2 separate regions of the Homo sapiens genome follow, and region 2 is linked to region 1. The links come from fine-mapping of genetic effects on gene expression. A gene starts in region 1. The other region holds a variant in brackets. All regions are shown on one strand. Distances are from middle to middle. Region 1 holds the start of VAC14 (VAC14 component of PIKFYVE complex). Region 2 overlaps VAC14 (VAC14 component of PIKFYVE complex).

Region 1 (5,481 bases):
CGGGAGATGGATTTGAGGGTCTCCTCCCATCTCATCACTCAGTGACCTTTGATCATCACTTTCTCTGCTGCATCCCCACTGTCTCTGTGCATTGGTCTGTTACTGCACAGTGGGCACACAAACGTGTTGGTCCTATAACACCACTGAGTCTAGGGTCCAAATCCTCCTAGCCCCTGAGAGAGGAGGAAGTTCCTTCTCCCTGGGACCAAGAGCCAAGCTCAGATCCTGCCCCAGTGTGAACCCTCTTCCAGGCTGGTTTGAGATTGGGTGCATTTCTTCCCTTTAGGTTTTTCTCGTGCTTCCTTAGCCTCAAACAATAACAAAATAGTCTTATATTAGCAAATTTGGAATGGCAAAGTAGCTTAACAGCAGGCTTGATGAAAATAACCCTTCCAACACATGCTTGTGGAAGTTACATTGGAGAATCCATTCTCAGCAAAGCAGACCAGGAGACTTCTAACTGGGGGATGTTCAGAAAATGTCAGGGTAGCTGTGTGGCAGAACTCCAAGGAGCACTGTGCACAGAATACCATGGGAATGGGGCTCCCTGGCCTCGTTCCACACTGGGCCCCCAGTGAGTGTGGCATGCTAAGTCTAACCACTTCTTTAGGAGCCTCAAGTCAGAGGTGACAATACTGTAACATTGGTGAGGGCCTGCTACATTTCAAGACCTCTACCTAATACCTTAAACCCTGTTGCCCTGAAACTCCAGCTACAATTACATTGCTGTTGGAGAAACTGCTTTGCACAGTTCAAGATTTTGGTACAATTTCTTACAATGTCATCAGCAGCCTCTTGCTACAAGTTATGTCATAACTTTTACATACTTGTAATAGCTATTATGAATAGTTGTTACAGAACTATTACAAGTTCTAGCATAACAACCAAGCATCACACAGATGCAGATGAATTGTAACTGTGAAATAATGACTAGTATGCAGTCAGGCACATCAGTTATCCCCTAGTCTAGAAGAGTTTCAACAGGAATGGTCACAGGTCAGAGAAGAGGAACAAGGGTGGAAGGCAAGGGTAGCCTTTGGGCTTTATTTTTACCACCACTGCTAGCTCAATTATGCATAAATAATCTTACCTAGTTGGCATTTTTCAAGATATTAGAGAAAAGAACCACTTCTTTCTAGGAACTTCTGACCTAAAGGTAGGCATTGGTCTGGGCCTTGAATAAAAAACTGGTTACTTAGCAACCTGAGCCAGAATATAATTTCAGGAGAAAAGAATACTTCTGGTAAAAAAAAAATTCCTTATTGTTTGAATTATTAAAAACTGTATCATTACCCTTGGGAAATTCAGTTCACCTCTAAGAAAAAGCCAAACCAAAAAGCAAAAGAAACATGAAATATATTAGATATGCGTCCCGTGGAAATGCACACACATTGGAGAAATAGAACCAAATCATTCCCATTGATTTACATTTTTTCAGTGTTTTTCATCAACCATCATCAAAATCCTAAAACCAAACTTTGCAAGACATTTGGAGATGTCCTTGGCAGCACTACTACTACTTGTTAGCGCACCTACCTTCATTCATAGGATTGTGTCAGCAAAGGTTTTAACAACTATGAAAACCCCACCTGTATAGGAGAATACATTTTTTATGGATTTTTCTAGACATGATATATCCATGACTTGCCGAGTTTTGGATTAGCCTTTGTATTCATTTTCTATGGCTGCATAACAAATTACCACAAAACTAGGAGAGCAAAACAACACAAATTTATTATCTCACAGTTTCCATGGGTTGAGAGCCCAGTGTGAACTGGATTCTCAGCTCAGGGTTCCACAAGGCTGAAATCAAGGTGCTGGCCAGCTGCATCCTCATCAGGAGGCTCAACTAGGGAAAGATCTGCTTCCAAGGACCCTCAATGTGTTGGCAAAATTCATTCCTTTGTGGCCATATGACTAAACTCCTTACAGGAGAGTCTCTCTTCCAGTTCAAATTTCTTCTAATCTCTTTTAAGTACTCACTTGATTCGGTCAGGCCGACTCAAGTTAATCTCTCTTTTTATTAATTCAATGTCTGCTGATTAGGGACCTTAATTACATCTGCAAAATCTCTTCTGCGATATTACATAATATAATCATGTGAGTGATGCATAGCCCATCATATTTACAAGTCTTGTTCACGCTGAAAGAGGGCATAATACAGGGCATGAACACGAAGGGGTGGGAATATTGGAGGTCATCCTAGAATTCTGCCTACTTTTGCCCTTTACTCATTGCGTCCCTGTTTCTGTTGAGGAAAATACTCCATTTTCAAGACTGTTATAAGGCCTATATATGCACTTTTCATTCATTAAAGAAAAGTATCACCATGCATTCTGAAACTGTTATTCTTTGAGCTCCACTGTAATCTAGCCCTTGTCCTAAGTCCCTGTTCACTCTGAAAGCTTATGATAGGAAAGGCTGATGCACCTCCCTGTTAACTGCATGTTTACCACACTCCGGCCATAAATTGCTTTTAAATATTTTGCCACATAGTTGGGATTTCTGTCTCACCATGTAATGTGATTCCCGAAGCAGCTGAAGGGGCTGCTTTCCAGGGGACCTATCTAGAGACCCGCACTCAGCAGATCTGGGGCCTTTCTCTCTGTCTGTAACCAGCCCTCCTAGGCATCAGAGCATGTTAAACACACCCCCAAATGGTGGAGTGACAGACACTGGTGGTACCTGAGATCTTAGGTGGTAGACAGGTAGTGCCATTTTTAATTGAGAATTTATTTTGATGTGTCTTAGAAAAAATATACCTATTCAAACTCATGGTTTTAGGGCATAAGCAAAGCTAAAAGAGATTTAAGGTATTTTTTAAAGTGAGTTGATTTGAGGAAAACATTAAATAGATAATACAAGTGGCTAGAATATGGTGAAAGTGATGACAGTGTTACTGCAGTTAGGGAAACGTCTGCATCTAGGAAATTGGTAAGTGACCAACTACTGAATGAACTAGTGAATTCGGTGACTATTGAATAAATTATGTTAAGTGAATCAGACTCCAAGAACCCATTCGGTCTTACGAACGTCTACAGAAGCCCACCACGTGCCATCAGTTGGGCGTGAGCTACACACCCATTAAAGCACGTCTCAAACCACACTCCAGCTACCTGGCGCGCAGCGCGATAGTGTGTGCAGTGTGGGTGGAGCCTTCCGAGGGCGTGGCCAATCCACCTGCGGCCTGCGGTGGGGGCGTGGCTGGAGAGGGGCGGGCCCTCGCGACGGAAGGCGGAAGTGCTGTAGAGTCATGTGACTCGAGTAACATGGCCGCTGTCTCGTGAGTCCCGCTAGTGCCGGGCGGGAGTTGTTAAGCGGCCAGGGTCAGGTGTGCTGGAGCGGGGTCCGGGCCCGGGTTCCAGGGCGAGGCGGCGGAGCGTGGCAGGCAAGCCTAGAGCGGCGTGGTCCATGCGCCGGCGCCGGGGGCAGAGCGGAGCCGCAGACTCCCCTGGCCCCGGCGCGGCCCCGGCAGCCGCGGGCTAAGGAGTCGCGAGGTTCCCCCAGCTGCCACCATGAACCCCGAGAAGGATTTCGCGCCGCTCACGCCTAACATCGTGCGCGCCCTCAATGACAAGCTGTACGAAAAGCGGAAGGTGGCAGCGCTGGAGATCGAGAAGTAAGAGCCGCCAGGACCCCTCCCTGGCTATGCAGCCCCTGACTGCTCTGCTCCCCAGGGGGACTTCTCACGCCTTCCCAGCCAGGGTTACTTTCCCAGGTTTTAGGCCCTTACCTTAGCGCAGTGTTTAAGAGCAGATTGGGAGCCATATCTGGGAGTCCCTGCTTTACTCCTGACTGGCTGTGTGATTTGGTCCCAGCTTTTTAACCTCCCGGTGCCACAAAGGGCTGCAGTGAGAATGAAGTGACATCATGTATGGGTAGTGCTTTGCACAGTGCATGGCACATGGTGAGTCTTCGGTGCGGTGCCACCCAAACCAGCAAATCAGAGAGTTGTCTCTGTGGTGAGAGAGAAGTCAGAAGCCGGAGAATTTGCAGGTGATGCTGACCAGCCTGGTTTCTTACCCAGCTTCTGAGAAGTGAAGGAGATTGTTAGTGACCAAGTAGAGAAATCAGGTCGGAAAACTCGTGATCTCAAGGCTCAGAGAGTTTTTTGTTTTATCTGTGTTATAACACCCTTCCCTGCAAGTGGAAGTAGAAATAATTTGACCTTTCTTGCTTCTGCAGTCTTGTTACATGTATGTGTAACAATGATCTGATATTTTACTTTATTTCCCAATGTACAAAACAGCGAAAGTTTAACTGGGGATGTTTTATTTATTTTTTTTTCTGCAGTATTATTTTACTTTTGTGGGTTTTTTCCCAGTCACATTTTAGTGTTAAAGTCAAGTGAGTGAGTGATTTCAGAAAATTGGAAAGAAGCAGGCTGTGAAACTGGAAGAATACCAGTCTGCGAGTCAGAAAAGGTGAATTGTATTTCTGTTCTGTCCAGTAGAGTAGCCGTTGGCCGTGCGTAGCTATTATAAATTTAAATTATTAAAGATTAAACTTTAGTTTCTCAGTCACACTACCCGTATTTCAAGTGTTCAATAGCCACATGTAGCTATTGGCTGCTATATAGGGCAGCACAGATTATAGACTGTTTCCATCATTGCAGAATGCTCTATTGGACTGCTCTAATCTATTCCGTGGTGTGACATTCATTCGTTAACCTGGGGCAAATTCCTTAACTCAGGGTTTCTCAGCCTCTGCACCATTCACATTTTGGGGCAGATGATTTTTGGTTGTAGTGGGCTGTCCTGTGCCTTGCAGGATTTTTAACAGCGTCTCTGACCTCTTCCCACTGGATGCCAGTAGCACTCCATCCGTTGTAACAATCAAAAATGTCTTCAGACATTGCTAAATGTCCCCTGAAGGAGCAAAATTGCCCCGGTTGACAACTGCTGCTTGCAATCCAAATCAAATGTTGCTTTGGATTTTAGTTTCCTCCTAAACTAAAGGGTTCGGACCTTGATAAGAAATCCCCCACCCTGCCTCCATTCAGCTCTCATACTCAGTATGTCCACAACCATCTAGCTGCTTCTCTCATCAGACACCACTTTCTTGACTGCTCCTTTTATATAGCTTTTTGTTTATGCCTGACTCTCACGAATGCTAGCAAGTCTTATTGCACATTGCCATACTGAATAGAGGGACCCAGAAATGATATATAGGCATGGTTCCGTGTCCATGGGGTTTTGTTGGCTTTGAAGTTGCCTTGACACCTAGTTTTGTCCCTCACCCACTCTGCTTCTCAGGAATATCCGGTTTTATTGTAGCTTGAGTCGTCTGTTGAGTCCTTGAAGAGAGAGGTATTCATCTCAACATTATTGTTGCTTCCAGCGCAACCTGTGTATCTGTTCTCACTCTGCACACAGTTCTGTAAGGGTTTTGTCTTTGATCGAGTTCATTTTGTATTGGACATTGCCCTTGATTTGTGGAATTTAGAGAAACTCAGCAGTGCCTTGACTGTGAACTCCTTAA
Region 2 (5,000 bases), 110 kb after region 1:
CGCTGTGATAAGAGCCTCTCCCAGCCCGGGAGGGTGCAGAGGAGACAGCTGCTAGAGTGGAACCTGGAACTCCTGAACAGGGGAGTTCCATTTAGGACAGAAAGGCGAGGAACAGGGAAGAGCCTGGTGTCCTTTGTGCGCCAAATCCTGCTTCACCACAACCAGGCTCTGTGCACAGGAAGCCAGGTGCAGGGGGGGAGGGCGTGTGGTGCTGTGAGCTGCGGCTGTGCTGGCCCAGCAGACAGACTTTCCTTGACTGCACACCCAGTGGGGACCTGGAGGTCACCGTGGACTTCCTCGCAGAGGTGGACAAGCTGGTGCAGCTGATTGAGTGCCCCATCTTCACATGTAAGAACCACCTCCCACCACACCTCGCGCCATGAGTCCAAGGCTGCCCTGGAGTGGGGTGGGTGAAGTCAAGCTCCAGTTGGTCTCTTTTGGCTGGGGAGGGAGGAAGAGCAGTCACCCCAGGGAAGCTTCTGGAATGTTGAGAATGTGAGACTTATAATCCCAGCACTTTGGAGGCTGAGGCTGGAGCATCTCTTAACGGCAGGAGTTCGAGACCAGCCTGGGCACCATAGTGAGATCTCATCTGCACAAAATTTTTTAAAAATTAGCCAGGCATGAGAGTGCATGCCTATAGTCACCACTACTCAGAAGGCTGAGGTAGGAGGATCACTTGAGCCCAGGAGGTTGAGACTACAGTGATCTGTGACTGTACCACTGCACTCCAGCCTGGGTGACAGAGCAAGACCCTGCCTCAGAAAAAAAAAAAAAAAAAAGACTGGGATGATAGGCCTGCAAGGCCAGCCAGAGCAGGGCTGGGGCACGTGGCATCAGAACCTGGATCCTGCCTGTATCCCTCACAGTGAGTCTCCTGGACATGAGCCAGCGCTGACAGCAGAACCCCCTTGAAGGCTGATACCAGGCCCCTGGGCTGTCCCCAGCCACCCCTCCGGGTCTGCTGCCTCTGCTCTGGCTCTCTGAAGTTGTGGGTCCCGAGTCCCTCTGCAGGTGCTCCTGTTGGCCCAAGAGCCATGCCTGTACCTCTCTGAAAGAAGAGTTGGCATTTGCTGGGAGCCAGTGGGCAGGAGCTGCCTGCTTAGTAACACCCAGGCTGAATGTGCAAAAGTGGCAGCTGGCTGGGGCGAGCACAGCTCTCAGCACCTCAACATACACACTTTGAATGACGCTTATGTGCTTATAATGTGCAGAGAAGCCAGGAGGCCACTCTGCTGGTGGCCACCTTCCCTGCCAAGCTGGCCACCCGGCCTCTCCCACTCTCTGGCAGCGTCTCTGACCCGCCCGGCCTAAGCCCATCAGCCTGAGCCCTGGAGCCTGAATTGAATGCAGGGGCTGAAGAACACCCGTTCCCATCCCCTCCTGAGCCCCCTTCAAAGGGCAGCCTCATCAAGCAGCAGGGTGCCGTAGGAACTGATGCCCTGGAGACAGAAGAGCAGGGGGGAGACCCTGCTCTCCGCAGAGTGCGCTAAAGCCTGTCCCAGGTGTGCCCAGCGTGACACTTCCCCGAGGGCCTCCCAGGGACACAGGCACCCACACGGCCGCCTGAGGTCAGATCCTAAAAAGACCCTGCTCCTGCTGCTGGTCTGTCCTGACTCATCTCTCCAGTTGTACATTCTTGGCATTCCAGAAGCATCCCTAGGATGACTGCCCTCCCTCCCTGACCCTGGAGGAACTCCAAGCACCTTCTCCTCAAGCCCAGGGCTTTGCTGGGGCAGGGTAACAGGAGAGACACACCCTGGTCTCGCCCAACACCGTCCCAGCCCTGAGTCGCCTGGATCCTAGAGGTGGCTGGTGTGGCCACCGGCAGTGCCTGCTTCCCAAAGGCCCAAAGGGAAGAAAGGACTGGAAACAGGCTCGCGCTTCTGCTGGGCAGCCAGGCCTAGGACAGTGGTGGTGGGGGTCTCTTCTGGAGGGCGCCAGCAGGCCTCCATTCCTCTGCTCCCTGCGCACCAACACCCTGGCCCTAAGGCCTGGTGCTCAGGTTCCCTTTGTCAGCGGGACCCCCTGTGTGGCCGCTCCAGGGGTGACATAGTCCCTCTCCCAAAGCACATGGCATATCCTCCACAAACAATGCCTGGACTGGGCCTAGGGACACAAGGAAGTAGAAGCCAGTGATTCTCCTGGAGAGGCTCGCAGAAGAAAAGTGAGCCCGTTTCCAATCCCACCTCCCCTGTGCGCCTTGGGGAAGCTGGGACTGCCTTGTGGTACAGCCAGCCACCAGCGGGGTCCGTGCTGCAGCTTGGGCTGGAATGAGTGCTGGGCAGCCCCCCGGGTGCATCTCTTTCCCCCGCCAGGGTGGTGGCAGGGCTGGCATGTGAGCCGGAGCCCCAGAAGCACCTCCCAGACGCTCCGGGGCTTTGGTGTGTGTCTCGCTACACACAAAGGCGTTTTTCCATCCTGCCCTCTCTTAAAGCTGTCCTAATCTACCGTCTTTCTCTCCAGCACACCCTATTTATAGCTCTCCCGTGCTGGCACGTGTGGAGCCAACTGGAGAATATGTTACACTACAGGCCCCGAGCCCTCGTATCACCAGGGAGGCAGCTGAGCGGGGGGCGGGAAACAGACCAGGCCCCACAGCGTGTCTCGGGGTTGTGGGGCTGAGGTGACTGTTGGAAAGATCAGACAGGCAGGTGGGCAGGTGGAAAGGAAGATGAGATCATGGAAACGGCTAGGACACTCCTGGGGGAGGTGGGGGCAGCGCGACTGGCTGTGAAGGAGCCCCTGACTCGCTGGAAGCCACAGCCACCTGGCTGGGTCCACACAGCTGGGTCCTTGGGCTGTGGGTGCCATGGCACCAAGTCCCAGGTGGTCCTGGCCAGTCGGAGGCAGGCAGTGTGGGCTGGGCGTGTCCCAGAGCAGTGCCAGGTCCCTGACCCCTGCCCTCTGCCTACCCCAGATCTGCGCCTGCAGCTGCTGGACGTGAAGAACAACCCCTACCTGATCAAGGCCCTCTACGGCCTGCTCATGCTCCTGCC[G/T]CAGAGCAGCGCCTTCCAGCTGCTCTCGCACCGGCTCCAGTGCGTGCCCAACCCTGAGCTGCTGCAGACCGAGTGAGTGCCGGCTGGGGACTGCTGCCCCCGCCCCCTGAGCAGGGACAGGCCCAGAGGAGCCTGGTGAGGAAGGGCCTTGCCAGGGGCTGCTGAGGCCTCCCTCACTTCAGCATCCCACCCCTTTTGTCACTGTGACCACCATCCCCCCCGCAGCCACTTGCCCCTTGGCCTCTTGTGTCCACATCAGAGCACCGAGCAAGGGATTCTGGGAGCCCTCACACGGTGGCCGGGAGTAGCAACACTTCCAGGCAATCAGGGTCCAGCTCAGTGAGGCTATGCAAAATCTAAAAACTCTGAGGGCATCTGGAGTTACCCAGACAGAGGACCCTGGAGAGAAACACCGGGCAGGGGGAGGAGTTCCTGCCCCAGCTTAGAGATGGGGGCCCCAGTGGCTGTCTGTGCTGGGCACCTCCCAGGCCTCACATAGCCCCTCCCCACCCTGTCTGTGGCAGAGGCTCAACCCTGGGTCACTGGGAGACCCCATCATTGCTAGGACCTTCTCAGCCACTTCCGGGGTGGGGTGGGAGGCAGGGGTACACTCAAGGCTCCCCTGCTCAGGTCCTGCCCATGGAAGGAACAGGTCCTAGGCACCCCTCCACCAAGAGGCCCAGCTTGGCAGCCTCTGGTCAGAGGAGTGCCGGCTCCCACCCTGAACCCACGGCTGGCCCCTACCCCAGAGCCTGTAGGGCTGCATCTATATTTGGTAACCCTTGGAGGCTTTGCCTCATCCACAGGCATTTGGCATCCGAGATGGAAAATTTCACTTGTCAGGTCGCCATGGAAACCAGCAGAGCCACTGAGAAGATTTACGCTGAATGGAGCGCGCCCAGCTTGCATCAGATGCCCTGTGTGTCTAGAATTCCCTCCCAGGCTGTTAGAGCCACTCAGCAGGCCTGGCGCCTTGCTCCAGCAAAGGGCCTCGGGTGCTCGCCTTTGCGATGGACACAGGCAGCCTTGAGACAGGCCTGCCCGGAGGCCCTGTGCCCTCCACACCGCTGGCATCGGCTCCCACTGCCCCTCCCACCCAGACTGGCCCTCGGATGGCTGAGTGTGGGGCACCTGATAGGCTCTCTGCCCCAGGCCAGCTGGAGAGGCTGAACCCCTAGAAAGTGTGGCCCCAACCAAGACCGGCTCGTGCCTTCCCTGCCCCATTTCCCCAGAAGGCAGTGCCCTGCAGTGGCAGGACTAGGCCTTGAGCCGGTTGCCACCCCAGCTGCTCAGGGTGCTGCCAGGTGGTCCCCAGAAGACAGCACCTGATGCAGTGTCCCCAGGGGAGCAGGGTCAGCCATGGAGCGGGGGCGCATGTGTGGGTTCCTGGGGCCGGAGTGCTGTCAGCTCCCGAGAGACTCCGAGAGAGGCCTAGAAGCCACACCGGGCCTTGCTGGCCCAGCCTTTGCCTTGGCCCTTCAACGCCCCATAGTGTTAGGGTCAACCTGGCAGGCACCCAGGAGGGGAAGGTGCAGCCGGAAGCAGGGAGGAGGCAGGAAGGGCTGCTTCCCTGTGACCTCCAGTCTCCCTGTGGGAACCAGCCTGCCTTCCTGGGAGTCCTCCTGGCCAGGGAGCCAGCCCAGCCTCTCCCGGGTCTCCGAGTGCTGATCTCCTCGTCTTGGGAGGGGAGCAGAGGCTCAGAGCAGTCAGACTCCTCAAACCAGGGTAGAACAAGTTTGCAGAGGGAAGCTGGGAAAATGAGGCTTTCCTCAGAATCTCCCACGGTCAGTCAGGGAAGTCTTGAGCCAAGGGGTTGAGGCCTCTGGGTAGAAGATTCTGAGGGTCAGTGGATGCTTTGCAGGCCTAGAGTAGGATCTGGTGTGAGCTCTGCCATGGATTTGTTGTGTGACCTCCAGCAAGCCCAGTGCCCTCTCTGGGTTCTTGGTTACTTGGTCAGTAAATGCACATTTGGACTAAATGGGTGTGTGAGACACCCCCTAG

The links.
Region 2: its variant is fine-mapped to the expression of VAC14 in whole blood (INTERVAL, PIP above 0.99).

The regions. Positions count from the first base shown.
Region 1 is chr16:70,798,935-70,804,415 of GRCh38, reverse strand. It overlaps VAC14 (VAC14 component of PIKFYVE complex), which reads left to right and starts at 3,258. Exons shown (of 19, transcript NM_018052.5): 1 at 3,258-3,619. The coding sequence starts at 3,516. It overlaps HYDIN (HYDIN axonemal central pair apparatus protein), which reads left to right. Exons shown (of 86, transcript NM_001270974.2): 86 at 1-2,332. RefSeq lists enhancers at 3,223-3,282, 2,950-3,572 and a silencer at 3,363-3,552.
Region 2 is chr16:70,690,892-70,695,891 of GRCh38, reverse strand. VAC14 (VAC14 component of PIKFYVE complex) reads left to right here. Exons shown (of 19, transcript NM_018052.5): 17 at 269-348; 18 at 2,921-3,071. Among named protein-coding and RNA genes, the nearest start is that of MTSS2, 7.3 kb to the right of the region's middle. RefSeq lists enhancers at 1-400, 401-1,226, 1,227-2,052, 2,053-2,878, 2,879-3,706. The variant G/T (reference allele first, on the strand shown) is at 3,000.